Linked DNA regions of Homo sapiens: region 2 is linked to region 1. The links come from fine-mapping of genetic effects on gene expression. Tissue or cell type: anterior cingulate cortex. Region 1 holds a variant in brackets; the other region holds the start of a gene. All regions are shown on one strand. Distances are from middle to middle.

Region 1 (8,183 bases):
TTAACATCCCAATGGTCATGCGGGATGGAAAACCATGGGGATTGAACAGAATGTCTGGGACCATCCCACTCTCAGTAAAAGGCATGTCCTCAGCCGGCCACAATCTGCTTAAAATGCCCTTCTGCCCATGGCGACTGGCAAATTTATCTCCGATAGTTGGGTTCCGAGGCACTCTCATAGTGATGCAAACACACTTGAATTTTCCACTCCCAGTGTCATTACTGCACACTTTGATGTTATCCACAACACAATTTTCTTTACTCCTAGGAAAAAGTAAACCATATAAGGTCAACCTATTTGTTTTAACTTATGGAGATAAGTTTCATTGATATAATTAGTGCTTCATAAAGGATATTTGTAAAACTTTTTTTTTTTTTTTTTTTTTTATGATACAGGGTCTCACTCTGTTGCCCAGGCTGGAGTGCGGTGGTGCAATTACAGCTCACTGCAGCCTTGACTTTCCGGGTTCAAGCAATCCTCCCACCTCAGCCTCCTGAGTAGCTGGGACTACAGGTATATGCCACTAGGCCTGGCTAGTCTTTAAATTTTTTTTGTAGAGATAGGGCCCCACTACATTGCCCAGACTGATCATGAACTCCTGTGCTTAAGGAATCCTCCTGTTTTGGTCTCCCAAAGTGTTGGGATTGCAGGTGTGAACTACTGTGCCTGGCCTGCAAAACTCATTCTTACCTTTATTCTCCAATACAAACAGAGATGGTATGAATAGAGCTATTGGTGATATTCACTACAGAATTATGTTCATCTGAAAGAAAACTAGCAACAAAAGCAACTGAAAAATTATTATGAAAGCCTATTGAAATAAATTATATTGTAAAATAAGCTAAAATAAGACATTTCTAATAAGAGGTATGAGCTCAACATTTTGGCTAGGAAACATTGCTAACATTGTATGTGAGAAAGATGACAAAGTTTGGATAATACAGTTTTTAAAAAAAGCACAAATAGGCCAGGGATGGTGGCTCAGGCCTGTAATCCTAGCACTTTGGGAGGCTGAAGCAGGTGGATCACTTGAGCCCAGGAGTTCGAGACCTACCTGGGCAACATGGTGAAACCGTCTATACTAAAAATACAAAAAATTAGCTGGGCATGGTGGTCCATGCCTGGAGTCCCAGCTACTCAAAGGCTGAGGCGAGAGGATTGCTTGAGCCCGGGAGGTGGTGGTTGTAGTGAGCTGAGATCACTCCACTGCACTCCAGCCCGGCTGACACACTGAGACCCTGTCTCAAAACAAAAACAAAAACAAAAACAAAACAGCTTGGATACCCAAACTTACTTATAGTACATCACAAAACTTTCCCCGGTGTTGAGGTTGAGGTAGCTGTAATACGGATCTCCGTACTGCAGTTTTGCTCCTATAAACGGCAATCCATCGTCATCTAACTTCTGCAGAACGCGTGGGTCACCAGGTTTGATGCCAAACACCAGGCTACTATCTCCTTGTTTAATTTTTTCAGAGAGGTCTATGAACTCAGACTTGTAGACACTTCCATGGGCAAAGCCTCGTTCCCAAGAGGCCTTATTCACAATCTGTGAAGTAAAAGAATCGTTAAAAGACTGAGGCCAATTGAGGATTTTCAAAATAAAACTAGGTGGGACTATCATACTTGGTTTAGGATAACTGGCATCACATTTTAACTTTCCTCACATTTTCCAAATCACTGATACTAACTACAAAAACCCAGACATGGCTGGGCACGGTGGCTCACGCCTGTAATTCCAGCACTTTGGGAGGCCAAGGCAGGTGGATCACTTGAGGTCAGGAGTTCGAGACCAGCCTGGCCAACATGGTGAAACCCCATCTCTACTAAAAACACGAAAATTAGCCAGGCATGGTGATGGGTGCCTGTAGTCCCAGCTATTCGAGAGGCTGAGGCAGGAGAACTGCTTGAACCCAGAAGGTGGAGGTTGCAGTGAGCCAAGATCGTGCCACTGCACTCCAGCCTGGGCAACAGAGCGAGACTCCGTCTCAAAAATAAAAAACAAAAAACAAACAAACAAAAAACAAGAAAAACAAAAACCCAGGCACACAGAAATAGCTTAAAATCTAATCATACTTAAATATAAAAGGTAGATAGATCCAAAACCAAACTTCAAAATTTACTCATAATATGCACTCAAATATGCAAGACATACGTGTATCTGAATATTTAGTGGATATTCCTCAAGGCTTGCCCACTTTCAACTTAGACTAAGAACTAATCATTTAATAGAACATCACGTGCCAAATACTAGGTACTTGGGTACACAAAAATATTCCTTCAGTGATTTCACAGTAAACAAACAAGTTAAAAAATAAAAAGATTGGAACAACATTTCCTGGTAAAACTTACCATGGCATCTTCCATATCATAGCCAGTGTAAGAAATCACAGCAACGATGGCATTGGTCCCAATTGGATAGTTATCCATGTCATAATAATCATACATGGAGGGTCTCACCAAGGGACTCTGAGGAGTCTGAAGACGATACAGTTTGTTATCCGATCGGTCTTGATAAGTGAGAAGTGGAAAGCCCATAGTTTGCTTACCTACATGGAGAAAAAACATCTTAGCATTTTCTGCTGCTTTCATCTTGATTATAGGTGTGATACGCAACACTGGAAACAACTAAATATCCATCAGAGGAAAATGAACAAATAAATAGTCATGGTAGTTATGCTTACTTTAGACTAATACATAAGCTGTGAAAATGAAGTAAACCTAAATGTATCAACGTGACCAGACCAGGAAAACCATGCTGAGTGGGAGAAAGTGCAGACTGACATTTAATATGATACGATTTATGTGTATTTGCAACACACCCCAAACAATTCTATACTTAGTTTATGGATACATGTATGATGTAATAAAAGCTTTAGAAGGGGACAGAAAGGAAGTACGCAAATTACAGGCTATCACTACTCGGGGAAGAAAAGGGGATAGGAATTATTACGTAATTAGATTACTTTCTTACAGCGGAATATGTATTTAATTCTAAGTAGTGGAGCATGGGGTGAGATTCCTCTGTGTACTACCTCACAGTACAGAGAATCATTTCACGACAAAATGATTTTAAAATATAAATACATACAAGTGAAATTTTTAAAAAAATTATAGACTTAGAGCTTCCAGTAATAAAGGGCTACTCTTACTAGACCACCCTCA[A/G]CACATAAGTATGAGACGCAGACCCCCAACTACACATACAGCACTGGAGAGTAACCAAAAGCTGTCAGAAGCTGAGAAGAATTTTTACTTGGACAAAAGGAACACACTGGGTGAATTTCCAGGTTTTTAAGTATTTATGTATTTATTTTTGCCTTATGGCCCAGTGTGGCAGCTACAACTTAGATAGAAACCCACAATCTTACTGGCTTGAAGAACCAAGAAATAGAGTTCTGAGCATGACAACAATTGGGAAGGGGGAACATTTCAGAAATGAGAGAACCACAAAGGGAGACCCTTAAATTCAGCATATAAATTGGGTCCGAATCTTTGGTGGACTCCTGAACTATGCATGCATGGGACAGATCACAGCAGCCCACCTAAGGCTGAAGAATGTACTTCAACTGCCACGTTCACCAAGTTAAGTACCAGTGAAAACTAAAAACCAATCCTCTTCCCCTGGAGAATTTTTGGTGACATGCACTGAACCAGGTGATGGACTGTGTATTAAGAAGGAAAGACATAAAATGAAAAAAATTAAAATGTAATTGAAGGCCAAACACCACACTAAAAACAAACAAAACCAATCCTCTTCAGAGGACCCTAACAGGATCCAGGGTTTAAAACATACTCCTCGCAATGTTCATAATACAATCCGATATTACTGGGCATACAAAGAAATGGTGAAACTTGACTTATACTCAAAGAGACTGATACTAAGATGACCCAGACATTGGAATCTGCAGATAATGATTTTACAACACCCATCATATAAAACTATGTTCAAAATATAAAGGAAAACATGCCCACAATGAATGAAGATAAGAAATCTTAGAGAAGAAAGAAACTATAAAAAAAGAAACAAGTCAGGCCAGGCGCAATGGCTCATGCCTGTAATCCCAGCACTTTGGGAGGCTGAGGCAGGCAGATCATTTGAGGTCAGGAGTTTGAGACCAGCCTGGCCAACATGATAAAACCCTGCCTCTACTAAAAATACAAAAAATTAGCTGGGCATGGTGGCACATGCCTGTAATCTCAGCTACTCAGGAGGTAGAGGCAGGAAAATTGCTTGAACTGGGGAGGCAGAGGTTGCAGTGAGCCAAGATCGTGCCACTGCACTCCAGCCTGGGTGACAGAGCGATACCCTGTCTCAAAAAAAAAAAAAAGAAAAAAAAAAGAAACAAGTAGAAGTGCTGGACTTGAAAAATACAGGCATGCACTGCATAACAATGTTTTAGTCAATGCAGGATGGCATATATACTATGGTGATCCCATATTTTTACTGTACCTTTTCTATGTTTAGCTACACAAATCCTTGCCATTGTCTTACAACTGTAGACAGTACACAGTACAGTTACATGCCACCCAGGTTTGTAGCCTAGGAGCAACAGGCTATACCATATACTAGGTGTGTAGTAGTCTCTGCCATCTAGGTTTGTGTAAGTTCACTCTATGATGTTCACACTACGACAAAATCACATATGACTCACTTCTTCGAAGGTATCCCTGTCGTTAAGGGCACATGACTGTAAGCAAAAATTCAGTAGAAGACAGAATAAAAAGTGACTGTGATAATAGGTCAATAAAAATAATCCAATCTGGGCCAGGTGCAGTGGCTCACACCTGTAACCCCAGCATTTTGGGAGGCTGAGGCAGGCAGATCACTTCAGGTCAGGAGTTTGAGACCAGCCAGGCCAACATGGTGAAACCGTATCTCTACTAAAACACAAAAATTAGCTGGGCATGGTGGTGTGTGCCTGTAATCCCAGCTCCTCAGGAGGCTGAGGCAGGAGAATTTATTGAACATGGGAGGCAGAGGTTGCAGTGAGCCGAGATTGTACCACTGCACTCCAGTCTGGGCAACAAAGTGAGACTCCATCTCGGGAAAAAAAAAAAAAGATCCAATCTGAAGAAAATAAAGAAAAAAGAGAACAGAAACTCAATGTCTTATGGAACAATATCAAAAGGTTTAAATATATGAATAACTGATAGAAGAGGAGGAAAGAGAGAAAAGGATAGGAGCAATGTTTTTAAAAATAATGACAGAAGAGTTTAGCAATTTAATTAAACTGAAAAAAAACAAAATTTGAGGCCGGGCGCAGTGGCTCACGCCTGTAATACAGCACTTTGGGAGGCCAAAGTGGGCAGGTCACCTGAGGTCAGGAGTTCGAGACCAGCCTTGCCAACATGGTGAAACCCCGTCTCTACTAAAAATACAAAAATTAGCTGGGTGTGGTGGTGAGTCCCTGTAGACCCAGCTACTTGGAAGGCTGAAGCAGGAGAATCACTTGAACCCAGGAGACAGAGGTTGCAGTAAGCCGAGATCACACCACTGCACTCCAGCCTAGGCGACAGAGCGAGACTCTGTCTCAAAAAAAAAAAAAAAGAAACACACTATATTCAGAAGACTGCTGCCTTCTAACTAGAAATGACAGAGACTAAGAAGAGACAGTGTAACAACAACTTTTAAGTGTTGGAAGAAAAATAACTGTCAACTCAGAATTGTATATCCAGTGAAAGATTCCTTCAAGTGAAGCAAAATAAAGACATTTTCAGATAAATGAAAACAAAGAGAATTTGTGGCCAGCAACCTGCACTATAAAAAAATGCTAAAGGAAGATTATCAGGCTGAAGGAAAATTGTATACAATGAAAACTTGAATCTTGCAGCAGGAATGAAGAGGACTGGAAGTGATAAATATGCGGGTGACTATAATTGCTTGTATTCTTCAAAAAATCAAATAATAAGACCTCAGGCACACCCAAATCTATGGACATTCTATACCTTTTTCTTCAAAAATGTCAATGTCAAAGACAAAGAATGTTTAAAGATCTGTCATAAATTACAGGAAACTAAATAGACATGCCAACTAAATACAATGAGTGATCCTGGGCTGGTTGCTTGTGGCACAGAAAAAAGAAAAACTTGCCATAAACTGTATTTTTGGAACAAATGGTCAGCATATGTAAATAAGGACAATAAAAGAGTGTGCTAGTATCAAGTTTACTTTCCTGATTGTGACTGTAACATCATCCCTCTTCCTTACCCATCTGGCATTGGTACATGTTCCGTGGACTCTGGTTGTGATCAGAGAAAGGGATGAAGTTGGCAATCACACTCAGCAGGCTGTGTGGAAAGAGTTCCTGGTGTGTGGTAACTCCAGCAAAAACTTCATCCTCAAAGATAGCGACATTCATGAAGATCTGGAAGAGCAGATGTCCAAGGCACAAAATAACTGCAACTGGTTACACATTTACTCTTACCATTTCTCAGAGTTCAGTACTCAAAGACTCAAGAGAAAACCATCCCCACCCAGCATCATGAGTGCTGAAGGGATCAACTGGGAAGCACAGGGAAGCGACCAGTTAGAAATACCACTTGCTTTACGTATCTCACTCTAAAACTACCCCAGACCAATTGTGAAGGGGAATAGGAAGAAAAATTTTTAAGTAGCACAAAGCCTATAATTTTGCAACTGTAAATATGTAGGCAAAGACTGAGTGTGAATCTAATGGAATGTTTTCACTTCACGGCTGAGGCAGAGCCAGGTACAAAGGAGTTCTGGGAGCTAGATAAGATGGGAGGCAGGTAATGTGACCACCAGCCCTCTCTCAGGTTCTGTGGAGTGAGATCAGACATGGAAATTGCTCTGTGCTGATCATAGAGGAGGTGGAAAGTCTGACTTTCTTTCAAATGTCCAACTGTTGTTGTAACATTAACAACCCTTTTAAAAAAGGAAGAGTTAAGTCTCTGAAAGTTGTATACTATACAAACAAGCACATACACTCATCCATCACACATATGTATTTACCTGTTCCATAGTTCCAATTAGCTCTTCTTTGCCCAATGCTAAGTTCTGCACAGGCCGTACCAGTCTACAAGGAGTGGTAAAAAGGAACAATCCTGGGTACAGACTTGGTTTTCCTGTCATGGGTATAAGGACCACTTCCATCCAGGGAGGAATTCTTTTCTCTCTCAACACCTGTTTTTAACAAAAACAGAGTTTAACAAACCTGTCCCAAGGCCATGGCTGTCGCTGCCAGTCTTATGCCCCATGGAATACCACTCATCCACACTCAGCCATGGTAAAAGCCCTACTTCCTTGGGTGCTCACCCCAGCTAGTAGGCAAATCACTAACTACTGAGGCTAAGGATAAAGCACACCATGAATGCACGTGTCGATACACTAAAGGAAATTCTGTCCTCTGTGATCTAAAATACAGTAGATTACTGGTTTTATTTGTAAATTTAATAAACCAAAAACTCATGGGTGGGCCGGGGGTGGCTTATACCTGTAATCCCAGCACTTTAGGAGGCCAAAGTGGGTGGATCACTTGAGCCCAGAGGTTCAAGACCAGCCTGGGCAACATGATGAAACCCCGTCTCTACAAAAATTAAAAAATTACCTGAGTGTGGTGGTACGTGCCTGTAGTCCCAGCTAATCGGGAGGCTGAGGTGGGAGGATCACTTGAGCCCAGGAGGTTGAGGCTGCAGTGAGCCATGATCATGCCACTGCACTCCAGCCTGGGTGACAGAGTGACCCTGTCTCAAAAACAAAACAAAAAAACTCCAACAAACTCCTGGGTGAAAGGAGAAATAAAAACCTAAATTACAGAAACCTGAAAACAACAACAACAACAACAACAACAACAAACCCATGTGTCAGAACTCATGGGGATTCACAGCTAGATGCATTATCATTAAAAATGAGAGAATGTTTGGTGGAGGGGGACACGGGGAGATGTTGGTCAAAGAGTATAAAGCTTCAGTTATGCAACAAAATTAAGTTTCTGGAGATCTCATGTACAGCATGTGACTATAGTTAAGAATACTATATTGCATGCTTGAAATTTACTAAGAGAGCAGATCTTAAGTGTCCTCATCCTCCGATGCTCCACAATGCTAACCAAAAAAAAGAGAATGAAAATAAATTCTCTATAAAAAAGATAAAATCTGAGACTAATGAGGCAGGTAGCTCATTTGAGGTCAGGAGTTCGAGACCAGCCGGGGCAACATGGAGAA
Region 2 (8,183 bases), 28 kb after region 1:
CAGGCGTGGTGGTGGGCGCCTGTAGTCCCAGCTACTCGGGAGGCTGAGGCAGGAGAATGGCGTGAACCCGGGAGGCAGAGCCTGCAGTGAGCAGAGATCACGCCACTGCACTCCAGCCTGGGCGACAGAGCGAGACTCCGTCTCAAAAAAAAAAAAAAAAAAAAAAAAAAAAAAAAAAAGCTACCTCCAGTCTACTCATAACTTCACTAAATACTTAAAACCACAAAGCATTATTAGTACAAGATTGTTTTGAGTGACCACATGTGTCAGAGACTGTAGTAGGCTCTAGGGATACAGCTGTGAACAGAACAAAATTCCTGTTCTCTGAACCAAGAGCCTTGTGTATTCTTAACTTGTCTATGTGCATAGCAAGACAAATGGGACTACTGCTAATAGAGCAAGGATACGGAAACATCCTTTAGGATTTAAGACTAGATGCTTAATGTACAATGGCAACGTCAAACTGAAGCCAGAGCCATGCAAAGGAAAAGATGGTGGCCAGGCTGGGTTTCCCCTTCCACAGAAGTTACTTCTTTGTACCATTCTGTAGGGGAAGCTTTGCTGTTCTGAGGAAGGGGCATCACCAAGCTCTCCTATATATTAATTACAAGCAACCTCCTAGACTTAGTCTTAGAATAATGAAAATGAAAAAATGGAACCAAGAAAGAATACCAAGGAGGTTCTCCACCTTCACGTGAGTTAACTTACCTTTTCTAAATTTTAAAATGTTATCTAAAGCTGGTATTATTTTAGAAATTCATATTTTATTTAAAAATAAAAGCCAGATGCAGTGGCTTATACCTGTAATCCCAATATTTGGGAGACCGAGAGAGGAGGACTACTTGAGCTCAGGAGTTTGAGACCAGGCTGGGCCACATAGGGAGACCCCGTCTCTACAAAAAATAAAAATAAAAAAATTAGCCGGGCATAGTGGTGCACGCCTGTGGTCCCAGCTACTCAAGAGGTTGACGTGGGAGGATCACTTGATCCTGGAAGGTCGAGGCTGCAGTGAGCTATAACCATGCCACTGCATTCCAGCCTAGGTGACAAAGTGAGATCCTGTCTCAAAAAAAAAAACAGAATGAAGTTAAAAAAAGAGAGATTAGACAATTTGCTTTCTCAAGACGCAGCTGCACTATTTAGAAGGAAATACAGTGAACTGTCATTATTCATAATAGTTATGTTCTATACAGTTGCCATAAACACTGAATTAGCCAATACTGAACCACTGCTCCTAGGGTAAATACATGGTTAGCTTCCTGCGAGCCTCTGGTCACATTTCATCAACTGATCAACACACAATCTTGTATTATGTGTGTTTCTGTTTAAGGACAGCTTATTTAATACATATTATTGAGTCCGTAACTCATGCCTGAACAAAGCCTATGATTTCATCCACTGATCAATACACAACCTTGCATTATGTGGGTTTCTGTTTAAGGACAGCTTATCTAATATATATTATTGAGTCCCTAACGCATGCCTGAACAAAGCCTATGTTAAATGCATGTATTAATATTTTCCCCTAAAGGCACAGCACAGCCTTCTTGTGCTTAGGAACTTTATACAGAACTTTAATACTTTAATACTTTGCTTGGGGGACATTTTAAACAGCAAAATCACCAACAAAAAGCACAAAACACGGCACTAAATAGATAGTGAAGACAACCTCTGTTTATAGTTTAAGAACTTAAAACAAGAAGGCCGAGCATCACCTTGTTAGATCTCAGCTGGGAAAATGGACACTGAGCAACTCAACTTTTTTGCTGCTTCTGGGCATGGTGCTTTTGGAGTAGAAGTAAATTTTAGTGAGTAGGTGAATTTGCAAATATGGAATCCCCAAGTAATAAAAATCAATTGTATTTTGAAAAGACAGACACATAAATTCTGACTCACAGAAAGGAGGAATTCACTCCAAAGAAACTTGGCAAAATTATGTTTTGTAAGTAAAAAATATGATAACTATTTTTTCCCTTGGCTTTATAAGTATTAGTTATTTATGTTACTGTGTTTTACAGAACTTTTTCAAATACTATATTATTATAGTCCTAGCTAAGTTGTGGCATCATTTTCTATGCAGGGCCAAATTTTCTTCATCTACTTCAACCAAAACAATTATCACAAGGGACTGAATGCACAAGCAGACATGAGAATCCAGCTGTCTTTTCATTAAGCCAGACATTAAAAAGATTTTTAATAATGCAATTCATCTAACTTCTTTTTTGCTTTGGAAAATATTTTTCTTAAAAATGTTAACATATAATTGGTTTATTTATTTATGTATTTATTTTTTTGGGAGAGTCTCACTCTGTCACCCAGGCTGGAATGCAGTGGTGCAATCTTGGCTCACTGCAACCTCCGCCTCCCAGGTTCAAGCGATTCTCGTGCCTCAGCCTCCTGAGTAGCTGGGATTACAGACATGTGCCACCATGCCCGGCTAATTTTTGTATTTTTTAGTAGAGATGGGGTTTCACCAGGTTGGCCAGGCTGGTCTGGAACTCCTGACCTCAAGTGATCCACCCGCCTTGACCTCCCAAAGTGCAGGGATTACAGTCAAGAGCCACCACACCCAGCCGACTGGCTTATTTTTAAATTAGTGCTTTTCTAAAATTTCTCAATTGGATTTTTTTTTTTTAAAGACAGGTCTCACTCTGTTACCGAGGATGGAGTGCAGCGGCACAATCATAGCTCATTGCAGCCTCAAATTCCTGGGTTCAACTTATCCTCCCACCTCAGCCTCCCGAGTAGCTGGGACCAGCTACTTGGGTGCGCACCACCATGCCCCACTAATTTTTAAATTTTTGTGGAGATGGGGTTTCACTATGTTATCCAAGCTGGTCTTGAAATCCTGGGCTCAAGTCATCCTTCTGCCTTGGCCTCCCAAAGTCCTGGATTACAGGTGTGAGCCACTGCACCCAGCCCGATTAACTTTTAATTAGGAATTTTTTCTCACAGACATGATACTGTAACAATCCAGGCACAATACAAATAACCCCCACCCCTCTAGTCTTTCTAAACAATAAATCTTAATGGCTCCCATATTATTTGCCGAATAGAGTTCAAGAATCAGACTGGCAATCAAAGCTCTCCACATTATCTGTATCCCTATCTCCCACAACACAAATCTTACCCAACAAAACCACAGGTAGGGTCCCCGAAGCATGTGACTCTGCTCTACTCTTCCCCTGGACGAAATGCACGTTTCTCACTTCTTGAACTCATCTAATCCTGCCCTTTCTCAAACTCCTGGATTAGTTGCGCCGCCCATAGGCTCCCGCAGTAGCCCACACAATCCCTTGGCAGAGCAGTTCTCAAGAACATTGGCATGCACTGCTTTCATTATCTTCACCCCTTCAACCCCCAAACACGACAGGGAGCACTTAAATGCATGAACTGTCTCGTACACGGGACTGCCTCCTCCACATCCTCTGAGCCTAGTGCCTGGAGACACTGGGGATGCTTACTAAACGAAGCTTTCCCCCACCATACTCACTTGAATTCTGCTACCATTACTCTACGCTAATAATGCAATTACACTTTTCGATTCAATCTTGCTTTCATGACTCATTTATACCTTCCTCGGCACCTGCTTAATTCATAACAAATGACGAGTAGTTTCTCTCTTTAAAGCTCTAAGAGAAGGAAACTGAAGGATAACCTTGAACATTACACTGTACCTACAAATACGTTCGGGATCTTTCGAGGTACGTTTTGGAGAGGTAAGTCTTCAAGTGATATAAAGCCGTGTGCATTGTGAAGCACATCCCCAGATAAGCCACTTCCTCACTCTCACAGCACCCCGAAACTGTCCAAACTACGGTTCACAATCACTTTTCACTCCAGAATCACGAATACATCTCTTAAGACGCCTCGACTCCAAGTCTCACGAAGGCCAGTACCGCGTCCTGTTTAACATGTTGTGCTCTCCCGCTTACCCACCAAGCCTGTCAGGATCAAGGAGCACATGCATCTGGGGTCATACTGTGACCTCCCAGCCACCTCCCTGGGATTGGCCTCGCCGCGGCAAGGGCGCCGGCGGACGCCGCGCTCACCTGCACCGCGAGGCCGAGACCCTCGTGCACAGCGTAGTTGAAGGACTCCACGTGCGCCCGCGTCAGCTCCTGCAACGCTGCCTTTTGCTGTTCCCGCGGGATTCCATAAGAGGGGTCAGTCAAGTGCTTTAGGCTAGGCCCGCTGGGCAGGTTCCGCCACCGGCTGCCAGGATCCATGTGGCCACCTGCACACCGGACGCCAGTCTCTCGGTACACGCCGGACGCCAGTCTCTCGGTACACGCCGGAAGTAGTGGCCGCAGTCCCGTTTCCGCAGCCTGCTGGGAAATGTAGTTCCCTCTCGTTCCACCCGCCCTAGGCCCTGCGGTTTCGGTTTCTCGGGGTCAACGTAGAACCAAAAACGTCGAGTGAACGGGCCGATTAAGGCCGTGTCCAGCCAGAGCGTGGCGGGCCCTCCCTTTCTCCCATATTCCGCCCCACTCATCTCCCCGCTCGCGAAAGATGCCGCAGGTGGAAACCCGCTCCCCGCCCAGTTGAGCATGTGACCTCTTTGGCTCTCATTGGCTCAGTCAATTAGGATCGGAGGAGAGCGGTCTTCTCAGGCTCTCTTCTGTTTCCCTTCACCTGTTCCCAGTCCCACGCTGATGCCGACCCTGGGGAGTCATCCGGCCAAAGTCGTTGCTTCAACGAAAAAGCGGATGCCGGGCCCCGGGCTGACTCTCTACCCAACTCCTAACTCGCGAGGCTCACCCCTGGGAAGCCAAGGAGTGGTCGGGCCCCGCTAACCTCGTCGCATCTTCCGGACTGGAGGCCTGGGGGAGGCCTGGGGAAGGAGGTGGGAGAGGAGTCGGGCGGTCCCGGATGGAGGGGATGGGGCAGCGGGGCGTCCAACTGGATTTACAGCCTGAATTTCTTTTGCGTTCCTGTGAGCCCCTTACCTCCCCAGAATACTGATTAATCAGGGAATGCCTGCTGGTTTTTCAACTTTATTGTGTTTGTGTTTAACAGCTATATTGCGTTATAACTGGCATACAATAAACCACACATTTAAAGTGTACGCGTTAAGTTTTGACCTATGTATACAACCATGCAGCCATCACCACAATTAAAACAATGAATTAAACCACCACTACCCAGTATCCTCCTGCCCCTGATAGTCCCTCCTTACTGTCAACTTCCCCTTTCCTAGTTCAGCTGGTACTTTTCATTCCTATATCACTTTTTATAAAAAATTCGAGCCGGGAGTCTGTTGCACAGGCTGGTCTTGAACTTCCGGCCTCTAGTGATCCTCTCGCCTTGCCTCCCTAAATGCTGGGATTACAGGCATGAGCCACCGCGCGCGCCCGGCCAACTGAGTAGTTGTAGTTCTTTATATAGCCTATACTAGTCCTTGTCAGATCCATGATTTGCAAATATTTTTCTCCCATTCTGTGGGTTTTTACTTTCTTGCTGGTGTCCTTTGAAGCAAAACGTTTTAATTTTGAAGTGTAGTTTTTTTCTTTTGTTGCCTGTCTTTTTATATCATATCTAAGACATCATTGTGTAATCCAAGGTCATGAGGATTTAAAAAAAAATTTATGGGTACATAATTAGCATATTTATGAGGTATATGAGATGTTTTCATATAGGCATACGATGTAATCATCACAGGAGGGTAGATGGGGTTTCCATCACCTCAAGCATTCATCATTTCTGTCATGAACATTCCAATTGTACTTCCTCAGTTATTTTTGAAGGTACAACAAATTATTGCTGACTGCAGTCACCCTGTTGTGCTATCAAATACTAGATATTTTTCAATCATGGGGATTTTCACCTATATTTTCTACTAAGAGTTTTGTAGTTTCAACTCTTACATTTAAGTCTTTGACTCATTCTGAGCTAATTTTTGTATATGGTGTGAGAAAGGCATATCACTTTATTCCTTTGCATGTGGATATCCAGTTGTCCTAACACCATTTGTTAAAAAGACTATTCTTTCCCTCATCAAATTGTCTTGGCCTCCTTGTCGAAAATCAGTTCACTATAGATGCAAGGGTTTATTTTTGACTCTCAGTTCTATTCTCTTGATCTGTATGTCTATCTACATTTATCTGTATATCTGTCTACAAACTACACAGATTTGATTAATACAGCTTTGTAATAAATTTTGAAATCAGGAAGTGCACATCCTCCAACTTTGTTCTTCTTTCTCCAGATTTATTTGATCCTTTGTATTTCAATATGGATTTTAGCGTCAGCTTAGCTTGTCAATTTCTTTCTCTTTTTTTTTTTTTTTTGTTTTTTGTTTTTTTGAGACAGAGTTTTGCTCTTGTTGCTGAGGATGGAGTGCAGTGGCATGATCTTGGCTCACTGCAACCTCTACCTCCTGCCTCAGCCTCCCAAATAGCTGAGATTACAGGCATGCACCACCATGCCTGGCTAATTTTGTATTTTTAATAGAGACAGGGTTTTACCATGTTGGCCAAGCTGGTCTTGAATTCCTGACCTCAAGTAATCCATCTGCCTTGGCCGCCCAAAGTGCTGGGATTACAGGTGTGAGCCACCACACCCGGCCCAGCTTGTCAATTTCTGCAAAGAAGGCTGAGATTCTTGATCAGGATTGTGTTCAATTGGTAGATCAATTTGGGGCCTATTTTCATCCTAACAATAATTATCTCCCAATCCATAAACATGGGATGTCTTTCCATTTATTTAGGTGTTCTTTAATTTCTTTCAGAGATGTTTTGTAGTATTTGGTGTAGAAATGAACTTTTGTTAAATTTATTCCTAAGTATTTCATTCTTTTTGGTGTTGATATAAATGGAATTGTTTTCTTAACTTCAAATTGTTTGTAATATGTAGAAATACCATTGAGTTTTGTATATTGATCTTGTGTCTGGCAATCTTGCTAAACTCTTTATTAGTTCTAACAGCGTAAGTGGATTTCTTAGGACTTTTTCTATATGGTATCTTGTCGTCTGCAAAGAGAGATCATCATACTTCTCCCTTTCCAATCTGAATGCGCAGTCTTCTTTCCTTCCTTTTGTCGAATTGCTCTGTCTAGAACATTTAATACAATGTTGAAGTGACAAGAATAAATATACTTGTTTTGTGCCTGATATTGGGAAGAAAGCTCCCAACTGGAGCTTTCACATCACCATTAATATGATGTAGGCTGTGGGTTTTTCCAAAGATGCTCTTTATCATGTTGAGGAAGTAATTTATTTCTAGTTTGTTGAAAGGTTTTTTCCAAGAAAGAGTGTTGTGTATTGCCAAATGCTTTTTCAGTGTATATTGAAATGATCATGTGCTTTTTGTCCTCTTTTTTCTATTAAAGTGGTATATTATATTAAGTAAATTTTGTATGTTAAAAAAACCTTGCATTCTTTCTTTTCCCCTTCTCAACGTTTATTTTAGAATCAGGGGGGTACATGTGCGAATTTGTTACAAAGGTATATTGGGTGATGCTGAGGTCTGGGGTATGGTTGAACCTGTCACCCAGGTAGCGAGCACAGTATCCAATAGGTAGTTTTCAATCTTTGCTCCCCTCCTTCTCTCCTGGCTCTAGTAGTCCCCAGTGTCTGCTGTTCCCATCTTTTTTTTTTTTTTTTTTTTTTTTAGACAGAGTCTCTGTCACCCAGGCTGGAGTGCAGTGGCGCAATCTCGGCTCACTGCAACCTCCGCCTTCCAGGTTCAAGTGATTCCCCTGCTTCAGCCTCCTGAGTAGCTGGGATTACAGGCGCCTGCTACCACGCCCGGCTAATTTTTTGTATTTTTAGTGGAGACGGGGTTTCACCATATTAGCCAGGATGGTCTTGATCTCCGGACCTCATGATCCGCCCGCCTTGGCCTCCCAAAGTGCTGGGATGACAGGCGTGAGCCACCGCGACTGGCCTCTTCCCAACTTTATGTCCATGTGTACCCAATGTTTAGCTCCCACTTTTTAATTTTTTTGAGACAGGACTTGCTCTGTCACCTAGGACAGAGAGCAGTTGTGCGATCTCTGCTCACTGCAACCTCCTCTTCTCAGGTTCAAGCGATTCTTGTGCCTCAGCCATCAGAGTAGCTGGGATTACAGGCATGCACCACCATGCCTGGCTAATTCTTGTATTTTTTATAGAGACCAGATTTAATCATGTTGCCCAGGCTGGACTCAAACTCCTGGCCTCATTTGATCTGCCCACCTTGGC

Direction of the effects. Positions count from the first base shown, and alleles are read on the strand shown. Sizes are in standard deviations (SD) of each study's normalised expression.
For the expression in anterior cingulate cortex of the gene that starts at base 4,259 in region 2, allele G in region 1 goes with a higher level than allele A (large effect, 1.1 SD a copy in GTEx).

What was found. PIP is the estimated chance that this variant, and not a neighbour inherited with it, causes the effect.
Region 2: POLR1B starts here. The variant in region 1 is fine-mapped to the expression of POLR1B in anterior cingulate cortex (GTEx, PIP 0.92).

The regions. Positions count from the first base shown.
Region 1 is chr2:112,566,927-112,575,109 of GRCh38, reverse strand. It overlaps POLR1B (RNA polymerase I subunit B), which reads right to left. Exons shown (of 15, transcript NM_019014.6): 11 at 6,973-7,143; 12 at 6,208-6,364; 13 at 2,352-2,548; 14 at 1,295-1,548; 15 at 1-263. Among named protein-coding and RNA genes, the nearest start is that of CHCHD5, 14 kb to the left of the region's middle. The variant A/G (reference allele first, on the strand shown) is at 3,165.
Region 2 is chr2:112,538,541-112,546,723 of GRCh38, reverse strand. POLR1B (RNA polymerase I subunit B) reads right to left here and starts at 4,259. Exons shown (of 15, transcript NM_019014.6): 1 at 4,053-4,259. The coding sequence starts at 4,229. TTL (tubulin tyrosine ligase) reads right to left here. Exons shown (of 7, transcript NM_153712.5): 7 at 4,985-8,183. LOC105373562 (a long non-coding RNA gene) reads left to right here and starts at 4,512. Exons shown (of 2, transcript NR_136321.1): 1 at 4,512-4,521; 2 at 4,646-5,068. RefSeq lists an enhancer at 4,227-4,376.